Regions from separate parts of the Homo sapiens genome. Here region 2 is linked to region 1. Evidence: fine-mapped expression QTL. A gene starts in region 1. The other region holds a variant in brackets. All regions are shown on one strand. Distances are between the middles of the regions. Region 1 holds the start of DNAJC1 (DnaJ heat shock protein family (Hsp40) member C1). Region 2 overlaps ARMC3 (armadillo repeat containing 3).

Region 1 (5,389 bases):
TTATCTATTTTTTTTCTTCTGTCATTTATGTTTCTGTGTCATATATAAGAAACCACTGGCTAACCCAAGGTCACTAAGATTTACTCCCTTTTTTTCTTACAAGAGTTTGGTAGCATTAACTCATACATTGAGGTCTAGGATTCATTTTGAGATATTTTTTTCATCTGTGGTTTTATGTCTTTCATTACTTTTGTAAAATTCTTGGCTATTATATCTTCAAATATTGCTTCTGCTTCATTCTCTGTCTCCTCTTTTTCTAAGGCTCCAGTTATACCTATCCTGGGTTTATTCATTGTACACATGCCTATTAAGCTGTGTTCTATTTTTTCCATTTGTTTTTCTCTCTGTGCTTGAGTTTAGGTATTTTTTCTTGCTCAGTCTCCAAATTCACTAACCCTCTGTTCTGCTGTGTCCAGGTTGCTATTAAACTGATCCATTGCAATATTCCTTTCAGAAATTACATTTTTCAGTTAAATATTTTCCATTGATTCTTTTTTATGGATTTTAATACTCTTAAAATTCTGCATATTTTAATCCATCTTGTTCATGTTTTCTTCTATTTTATAACCTATGGCTTTATTTCATAATAGTTATTTTAAAGTTCTTATCTAAACTTCAATAGTTGGCTTATCTGTGGATCTTCTATTATTTTTTTTTTCTTGATTGTTGGTCAAATTTTCCTGCTCTTCTCACACCTCATAATTTTTTTTTACAAATGTTAGACTTTTATATTAAAGATCTATAGACAATATAGATGATGTTATTTTCTTCTAGGGATAAACATAGACAAATAGGATGATGTTCTGATTATCTCTGTCTAATCAAGGATGAGCTGGGTTGGGATTGGGGTGCGGTTTCAGTAAGATAGTTCTCTTGTGGTTTCTCTCTCTTCTTCATGTGTGATTCCTCTGGGCTTTTGATCAAGAGCCTGGACAGCTGCTGTTTCCTCTGCTCTGAGATTCAGTTCTGCCTTTGAGAGGTTTTAAACGTAGATCTTCAGCCTCCTTCTCATACAACTTCAAAAATAGTGTAAATGTCTTGAAGGGGGAGAATGCTTGTGTATTTGAGGCAGGATCCTTCTAAGCAGAATTAGCTTTCTATGCAGTAGAATATGGGGTAATTTTACTCTGCCTATCACGCCCAGCTGCTCAGCCTCCTGCACCACCCCAGAACTCAGCGAATGTCCTGTGGGAAAACTGGCTATATGTTTGGGGCTCCTCTATATTTCCAATCCATTTCACAGCTCACATGATGGTTAAACATCTCACTGGTTTCTCTTTTTCTGTGTAAACTCCCTCTGCCCAGGCCAAGCTGGATGAGTCTATGCCCAGAATTAGTACATGTCACCAGGGAAGAAAACAGTGGATACTGTCACTCCCTTAGTTCAGACCTCAGCAAAAGATTTATTCAATTGCACTGTAATTTTTGGGACAATGACTGAATAGGTAAAGAGGCCAAGCTAGAAGTCTAAATATGAATATCACTGTGGTCTTTGCAGGAACCTGGACAAGCAAGAAGATCATCTCAGGGTGGACAAGTGTCATTGGAGCTGGGCAGCATGAATTTTTGAGTAATACCTTATGTCCATGAGAAGTATTATTAATAGAATCCAATTCTGTTTCAGCATGGCCTTAGAAAGAGGATGGGCTATCTTTAGATGGAGTAAGTCCCCGAGGTTCTCAGACAACATAAAGGTAAAACTCAAAAGGGAAATACTAGGCTGTCTGCTACAAGATCGGGGTAAGAATCCCAGATTTGTGGCAATATGGCACCAGTTTCAAAGGTTTTATTGCACTTAATCTAATGATCAAATTAGGAGAAAAGATGAATGTTACTATAATATGTAAAAGTAGTGCTTAAGATCATTAATTTCATCTTATTTCGATGTTTTGTTCATTGAATAAACAGTAACCTAATTTAGGGACTTGGTAAAGATGACGTTCACTTTAAGAAAACTGATATAACCAAAAATAAACTAGGCTGGGGGTGGTGGCTCATGCCTGTAATCCCAGCAGTTTGGGAGGCTGAGGTGGGTAGATCACATCATGTGAGGTCAGGAGTTTGAGACCAATCTGGCCTACACGGTGAAACCCCGTCTCTACTAAAAATACAAAAAATTAGCCAGGCATGGTGGCAGGAGTCTGTAATCCTAGCTACTCGGGAGGCTGAGCCAGGAGAATTGCTTGAACGTGGGAGGCAGAGGTTGCAGTGAGCCGAGATGGTGTCATTGCACTCCAGCCTGTGCAACAAGAGCAAAACTCCGTCTCTAAATAAATAAATAAATAAACTAAAAATCTGTGGTAGGGGGAATGGTGGTAGGGAGGTAGTCACAGGATTCAGTTCAACTAATTGAGTGCTCTCATGTGCTATGCATTGTGCTAAGCACACAATAATAAAGTCCACACAAGAGAATTGTGGTGGAGAAAATAACTTGAAAAGAGCTTGAACAGAAGCAATGCAAGACTAGAAGGTGAGACATTGTTATGGGAGAGGAGGTTTTTAGCCTGTCTTTTAAAACAGAAACATCTCAATTGAGGTCTGTTTTCAAAGGAACCCCAACTGGAGGTGGGCTAAGGTGGATAAACTACATTTCTCCTCCAACTATGATTGAGTCACCATTATTAACTGTTAATTCTACCAGGTCATTTTATGGTATTATGCCTGTAAATCTTAATTCATAATTAGAAGTATACTTTTTGTTTTGGTTTCAATTCCTTTTCTGCTCTACCTCTCTCTACTTACTAGATTTGCCCCTTTTAGAACCTGGTTCAACTTGTCCTGTCTTCTTTGCTGATGGACTAATTAAATGCATGGAAGCCATAATCAATTAATCAGGCTTCAAATATGCTTTTAGTGTTCGATAGCTAGGGGAGAGGAAGACAGTAGCTATTTCAGGGGAAGTCCACGTGGGGCGTTCCAGATGGACGCGAGATGGCTATAACCGTCCCTGTCTCTCAGCCCATGTGGGCGCAGGTACAGCTGCTCCGTGCGCGCCAGTGATTGAGAGGCATTTCACCCAGGCCCAGATCTGGGGCGCCAGGCGTCCAGGCTTCCGGCCACGCCCCCTTCCCGCGGTTGCTAGGAGACATGATGTCACCGGAAGCGAGGCCTGGGATAGGCTGAGGCGAAGGGAAGCCTCACCCACTGTGCAGCCCAGGCGCCGGGCGCTGCCTCTACAGCTGTGTGTAGGCCTGGGGGCGAGGGTCTTCGGAACGTAGCGCTGGCTGCGGCCCCGCCCGCCTACCCACCCGCCCGTCCGGCAGCCGGCTCCCGCCGCCTCCGCGCTCTGTCTGGGGCCAGCCACCTGGCGGGCCGCTCCGGTGCGCCTGCCCGCGCTTTTCACTGACAGGCGCTGTTCCCCACAGCCAGCGCCGCCCGCCACGTCCCAGCTCTCGGCCAACGGAGCTGCGCGGCGGGTGACCTTTCCGAGCCCAGCGCGATGACGGCTCCTTGCTCCCAGCCGGCGCAGCTTCCTGGACGCCGCCAGCTCGGGCTGGTGCCGTTCCCGCCGCCGCCGCCGCGGACGCCGCTGCTGTGGCTGCTGCTGCTGCTGCTGGCCGCCGTGGCGCCGGCGCGCGGCTGGGAGAGCGGAGACCTGGAGTTGTTTGACTTAGTGGAGGAGGTGCAGCTCAACTTCTACCAGTTCCTCGGGGTGCAGCAGGTAAGCAAGGAGGCGCGCGGGGCCGGGCGGAGAGGGGCCAGGGCAGGCGTCAGGCGACCCGGTTCCTCAGAGACAGCCGGACACGTAGGGCAGGGCTTGGTCACCCCGGGCTCTGGCTGCCCTCAGCTCGGGTCACCGGGGTCCTCAGCCTTGGAAGGACGTGTCCGTCTTCCCCAGATCTTTACTCCTGCTTCAACTTTTCTAGTCCCAGCCCCAGTGACAGGCTGGACGGCGCCACTAGCCTAGGGTGGCGATGCCTTCTCTCTGCTCCGGCGTTCTGGGGAAGAGCCTTCCCCCTCCAGCTGTGCTGGAGGAAGAACGAAGAGTGGTGTGGGTAGACTTTTTTTTTTTTTTAATTTAACACCTACCTTTTGCCTTCCTGTCCCCCTGAATGTGAGAAAGAGCAGCCGCTTCTCACCCTAAACTGTCATCTTCCACCGATACTTACCTCATCCTTATTCTTATTTCAGCTGCCTCCCCTCCTCTTCCCTTCTGGGAAAGTAGGAATGCACTGTGGCCAGTGTCTGTGTTGCAAAAGTTTTTCTTACTTTGTACTTCGTCATCTTTTTAGCCTGTTAGGTAGATGTTTGTTTCGCTTTCGCAGTTTAGAAATCTGGAGGAATTTGAAGCGTCTAACCAGGTTGGAGGTGTTAAGTTTTTTGAGCAGCAAAGGACTTGGGATGCGATTGGAAGAGAAGCCCCCGGTCAGTAATGTAGGAATGGGTTTTTTTTTCCCCTTTTCCTTTTGTTTCATTTCGTTTTCTTCTATAGCTTAAGACATTAACTTGTAAAATCCATTTGTTGCTTTTTAGTTCTACCATTGAGGGTGGTTGAGTGAGGGTAGATATCCAGTCTCTACCTGAAGCCTTGTGCGAAGGAGAAGATAACATTTCGCTGATTTCAGGCTTATGGGGTGAAAAATGTACACTTCACACGATCTGATTGAGCCCTTCGTACAATGCTTTGAATAGTTATGGGAGTAAAAAATTAATGTTTACGATAGTTGCCATTCAAGGCACACTTCACATGACTAGATATGAAATGCACATCCCCTTCCCCCATAGGTTATCATAAATGTGGGTGAACTATTGAACTTTTACTGAATTTTAATTTTCAGACATTGCATTTTCATTCCATCAGTGAATATAAAATTGCTGGGTTGCCAGGGTACCATGAGTGAAACAATTTTTTATTTTTGTAAGAGTTATAAAGTATAGGCATTTCACACTTCAGATTCATATGTGCAAGCAACTTTGTAATAACTATATTTATGATCTGTTGCCTGGTGCCCCTCCCTGCTTATAGATACACTATATATCTCATTTTCAAAGCAAATGATGGAGTATGTGTAAAAATAATTAGTGAAGCTCTGATGACTTTTAAGAACTACTTTAATACTGGGAATAATTAGAATTTATCATTGATTACATTCTGTACGTAAAGAGAGTCTTAAACATAATCTATCCAGAAATCTTGAAGATCCAGTTATTCATGAAAAATTAAGTGCCTTTAAGAGAACAGAAATTTAGTAGCAGTTTAAAATTTAGATCATGTAATCTAGCTTTGCATGTGAACACTCATAGAATTTTCATTTATAATTTCATGTAACTTGATTTGCATAGTTAATTAGGCAGTGTGAACAACCAGAGCACTTGACTCTCTGGGCAAAGATGAGAAAATAAAGAAGCATAGATAATCAAGAAGATTCTTTGTCAAGGTAGAATCCGA
Region 2 (5,389 bases), 940 kb before region 1:
TATCATTATAAAATGACCTTCTTTATCTCTGGTACTACTCTTTTCTCTGTTTACTTTTATAATATTAATATTTCTGTTACTAATGCTTGGGCTTTCTTTTGATTCATGCTAGCATGACATATCTGTTGTCATCCTTTTGCGTTATTTTTGTCTTTCTATTCTAAATGCACTTCTTGAAGGTGGCATGTGGTTTACTCTTGCTTTTTATCCAATATACCAATTTCTCCCTGATAATCAAGGTATTTAGGACATTTATATTTAATTTGATTTTTGATATGGTTAGATTTAAATCCACCATCTCGTTTTTTACATGCCCCATTATTCCATGTTTTCTTTTTTCTTCATATTCAGCCTTCTTTTCTATGTATTCTGTGAATATTACTGATTCCATTTTATTTCTTTCATTGGCTTATTTAATATTATCCTTTATTTTGTTATTTTAGTGGTTGCATTAGGGTTGCAGTATACATCTTTAACTTAACACAGTCTACTTTGAAGTGGTATTATGCCACTTCACATATGAGATCCTAACAATAGTATACTTCCATTTTTTCCCTTTCTATGTTGGGGCTGTTGTTGCCATATATTTTATTTATACATATGTTTCAAGTTGCACAATATATGATTATTTTTGTTTAATAAATTTGCTTTTGAAGTGATTCAAATAACAAAACATATATGTTGCCATTTCTAGCACTCTGTATTCTTTTTTGTAGATCCATGTTTCCATCTAGTGTTAGTTTCCTTCTGCCTAAAAGGCCTCTTTTTATTATAAGTAATAGTGTAGATCTGCTGGAAATAAATTATTTTAGCTTTTTATATTTGGAAAAAAAACATTATTTCACCTACGTTTTTGAAAGACCTTTTTTCTGGATATGTAATTCTGTGTTGAAAGTTTTTATTTTTCTTTTATTCTTTTAAGATTGTTGCTCTACAGACTTCTCACTTGCATAACTTCTGATGATAAATCATCCTTATTTATAATTTGTTATTATCTACTGTCATCCTTATCTTTATTTGAATGTAACATGTTTTTACTGATTCTGGCTTCTTTTAAGATTTTCTCTTTATCACTGATTTTAAGCAATTTGATTATAATGTACTATGGCATGGTTTATTTCATATTCTTTGCACTTGGGTTTTGACAAACTTTTTTGGATCCATGGACTTAGAGTTTTCATCAGATTTAGGGAAAGTTTGGCCATTATTTCTTCAAACGCTTTTTCTGTCCCTGTCTCCCTTTTTCAGAGACTCCAATTACACATATATTGGACACTTGAATTTTTCTCATACCTCATTGAATCTCTGTTCATCTTTTTAAAATCTCTTTTCACTGTCCTTCATTTTGGACAGGTTGTGTTACTATGTATTTAAGTTCATTAATCTTTTCTTCTGCAATGTCCAAACTGCATTAATCAAAGCCTATGTGTTTTTCATTTCAGACATTGAAGTTTTCATCTCTAGAAGTTGTATTTGGATCTGTCTTATAGCTTCCATGTTTTCACTTTCTAAACATATAGAATACAGTTGTAATTAATCTTTTAATGTCTTTTCCTGCTAATTCTAACATCTAGGTCAATTTGATTTACTCATTGATATATATCTTATTATGCGTTTTTTCTGCTTTTTTTCATGCCTGGTAATTTTTTTATTGGATGCAAGATATTGTGAATTTTACCTTCTTGGGCAATGGATATTTCTGTATTCTTAAGATTTTTTTCAGGGACAAATTAAGTTACTTGGAAACAACTTGATCCTTTCAAGTCTTGCTTTTAATATTTACTAGGTGGTACTAGAACAGTGCACAATCTAGGACTAATTATTTCTCATACTGAGGCAAGACTCCTCTGTGTATTCTACACAATGCTCCATGAATTCTGAAGTTTCTGCCTGGCTGATGGAAACAGGCATTACTCCTAGCCGTATGTGAGCACCAGGCACTGTTACCCCAATCCTTTGGGTGCCTCTTGTTCCAACTATTACCCTCACATGTACATGCTGTTCACTACTCTTCTAAATACAAGAATGAGACCCTTTACAGAGCTCCTGAGTTCTCCTTCTGTGAAACTCATTCCTCTCCTTTGCTCTGTCCTGAAAACTCTGAATACCTTTATTTCTCTGGACTTTCAGGTTTGTCTTCTTAACTCAGAGAATCCACCAGGTTACCTTTTCCAGTGCTATGGCCAAAAAGCTCTCTAAAGTCAAAAATCTGAGGCAATCATAGGGTTTACTTCCCTTGTTTCCCGTCTCTCAGTGGTCACTGCCCTTTATTGTCTGATGTTGATGGTCTTGTCAACTGTTATTTCATATATCTCGTTTATTTTCTTCATTGTTTCCACCAATAGAGTAAGTCTACTCTACTTTCACATATTGGGTCTGTTTCATTCATTGTTACAGGCAGTAGAGTGGTCCGTCATGGCCAGAAACCAAAGTCCTATCATTTTTTTTTTAATTTTAGAAAATACTACTAGTATAAAACATCAGACTTAAAATTATTTCTGTATTGATTTCATATGAAATACATGCCTATTTCTTCATGTCATGCAAAAAGAGATAACACATAATTAGATACACGTGACAGCCAGATGATGTATAATGACTCCGTAAGACTGAATGGGATTCATGCTGCCATAGATGCACAATCCAATATCTCCCTGAAATTTGACCCAGGATTCTACACCATCCACTCAAAAAGATATAGTAACTTCCAGAAACACTCTGGTTTACATCTGGATTCCCAATGATGACCTGAGTGACAAAGCAAGGTGAGTATTATACCCTTTGCTAATTGAATGATTTGTTGTTCTCTCATTCAGTTTCCAACACAATATGTCAAGTATCATTTATTTAAAACAAAATTGTCCCTATCTTAGTTTGAAATGGTTTATTAAAAAAAACCAGTTTAGTTACACTAAACTCTCAATTAAATTAATATTCTCAATTAAAATGTCATGCAACATAATAAAAGTCTAATCATTTGTAATAATATGAAGACTAAAATATAGGCATCTTGTATGTTTTTAAATCCTCTATGAATAAACCTTTCAGTAGAACCTGATGTGTAATATTTATAATTTTTAAATGTTTTATGTTTTACAACAATGTTAGTTTTACAGAAAAGTTACAAAGACAGTACAAAGACTTTGCACATACCTCAGACCCAGTTTCCCC[TA/A]TTATTAACATTTGATATTAGTATGGTACATTTTTTACAGTTAATGAACTAATATGAAGACACTGTTATTAACAAAAGTACTTAGTTATTCGGATTTCCTTAGTTTTAACCTAATATCTTCTTTCTGTCCCAGGATCCTATGTCATTACTCATTATGCCTCCATTATGTGAATTTCTCAAACTTGCTTGTTGTAGATAGCCATGACAGTTTTGAGGAGCATTGGCTAGGTATTTTGTACCTGAACCGGGATTTGTCTGATTTTAAAAATCATTATTAAACTGGGGTTATAGATTTTTAAGAAAAATAACACAGAAATAAAGTGTCATTTTCATCACATCATATCAAGAGCACCTAATATTGATAGGACTTATCACAGTTGGTGGTTTGTTTTCTGTTTTTTTTTTTTGGTTGGTTGGTTTGTTTTTTGAGACAGGGTCTCTCTCTGCTGCCCAGGCTGGAGTGCAGTGGCACAGTCTCAGCTCACTGCAACCTCTGCCTCCCAGGGTCAAGCAGTCCTCCCACCTCAGCCTCCCAAATAGCTGGGACTACAGACATGTGCCATCATACCTGGCTAATGTTTCTATTTTTTGTAGGGGTGGGGTTTTGCCATGTTGCCAAGGCTGGTCTTGAACTCCTGGGCTCAAGTGATCCTCCCACCTCAGCCTCCCGAGTAGCTGGGACTAAAAGCATGCACCACTACACATGGCTAGTTTTTGTATATATATATTTTTATATATAGAGATGGGGCTTTGCCACATTGCCAAGGCTGGTCTCAAACTCCTGGGCTCAAGTGATCCACCCACCTTGGCCTCCCGAAGTGCTGAGATTACAGGCATTAGCCACCATGCCCAGATGTGTGGTGTTGATTTTGATCACCTAGCTGCGGTAGTGTTTGTCAGGTTTATCCATTGTAAGCTTATTTTCCCCATTTCTACATTGTACTCTTTGGAAATAAGTCACTCTGTACCTCTCCCACTCAAAGAGTCGGAAGTTACATTTCACCTCCTTGAAGTCAAGAGTGTCTACATAAACTATTAGGAATTCTTCTGCATAGGAGATTTGTCTCTTCTCTTCCATTTATTCACCCATTTTATTTATATCAGTATGGACTCATGGATACTTATTTTCCACTTGGATGATAAGCCAATACTGCTTTACTTTGTTGTTCTAATTGTTCCAGCCTTGACTATTGGGAGTTCTTTTAGCTTCTGTGACATTTACAATTTCTAAAACTACAATGAAACTTTCAGAATGACTGTTCTACCCAGTGACTAAATTACTCCTTAAGATTAAGCTAGGAACTCAGGAAGAGAGATTGCTCTTAGGTAATGCATTAAATAATATCCTGGTTGTCTGAAATAATTCATCCGACAGCAAGTAAGTTAAAGACTAGGAAGAAAAGTGCCCAAGAGGTAGTAAATATTTTAAGAAATTAATGAAACAGAAAGATAAACTGAAAAAAATCCAAACCTTTTAAAGCAAATTTATAAATGGCTTCACATGCTTTAGCCAAAATTTCCTCTTCTGGAGAATTAAGCATTAACACCACAGTTGCTGCTTTTTTGCTTTCAATCATTAATGGGTCAAACTGAAAGGCAGAAAGAAAACTATCAGTTTCACATATGAGCTTTAAAAATCACATTAAAAATGAATGGGTCTTAAAACTTAAAGAAAATGTAATCTTGCAAAAAGGATGTGGTCACTGCCCAATAAGTGCACTGCAAAGTTTTTCATTAAAAATACATCAACCGCTAGAGAAACAATTGTCAGCATTGGAATGCCTGGGGTATGGTGGGAAGAGCCAAATGTTTTGGAATCTGACAGGTCTAGTTTCTCAATTTAGCCATGTGGAATCAAATGAATTATGCTACTAGAATGTCAATTTCTTTTTCTGTTTGATGAGGATAATAGTACCTATCTCAAAGGTACTATCTCAAAGAAACAAGGAAAGGAGTAGAGGTCATGTATGTAAAGCACTTAGCACGTCATCTGGCACATGACAGATGTTTATCAAATGATATAAATGCTTACTCAATATACACAATCCTTGAATACCTGTATATATTTTATTCCATGACCATCTCAATAATCAATACTTGCTTTCCAACCACTAGACTCTAGAAAAGCAGGAAGTACATATGTAAAACAATAAAAAAAGCAGTAGAAAAGAGCATATAACAAAATGTAAAATTGAATAAAACCTGGAACAGGGGAAA

What was found.
Region 2: its variant is fine-mapped to the expression of DNAJC1 in whole blood (INTERVAL, PIP above 0.99).

The regions. Positions count from the first base shown.
Region 1 is chr10:22,001,485-22,006,873 of GRCh38, reverse strand. It overlaps DNAJC1 (DnaJ heat shock protein family (Hsp40) member C1), which reads left to right and starts at 3,144. Exons shown (of 12, transcript NM_022365.4): 1 at 3,144-3,661. The coding sequence starts at 3,440. RefSeq lists enhancers at 2,891-3,020, 3,051-3,100, 2,980-3,480 and a silencer at 3,141-3,510.
Region 2 is chr10:22,945,516-22,950,904 of GRCh38, reverse strand. ARMC3 (armadillo repeat containing 3) reads right to left here. Exons shown (of 19, transcript NM_173081.5): 3 at 4,644-4,761. Among named protein-coding and RNA genes, the nearest start is that of ARMC3, 20 kb to the right of the region's middle. The variant TA/A (reference allele first, on the strand shown) is at 3,172.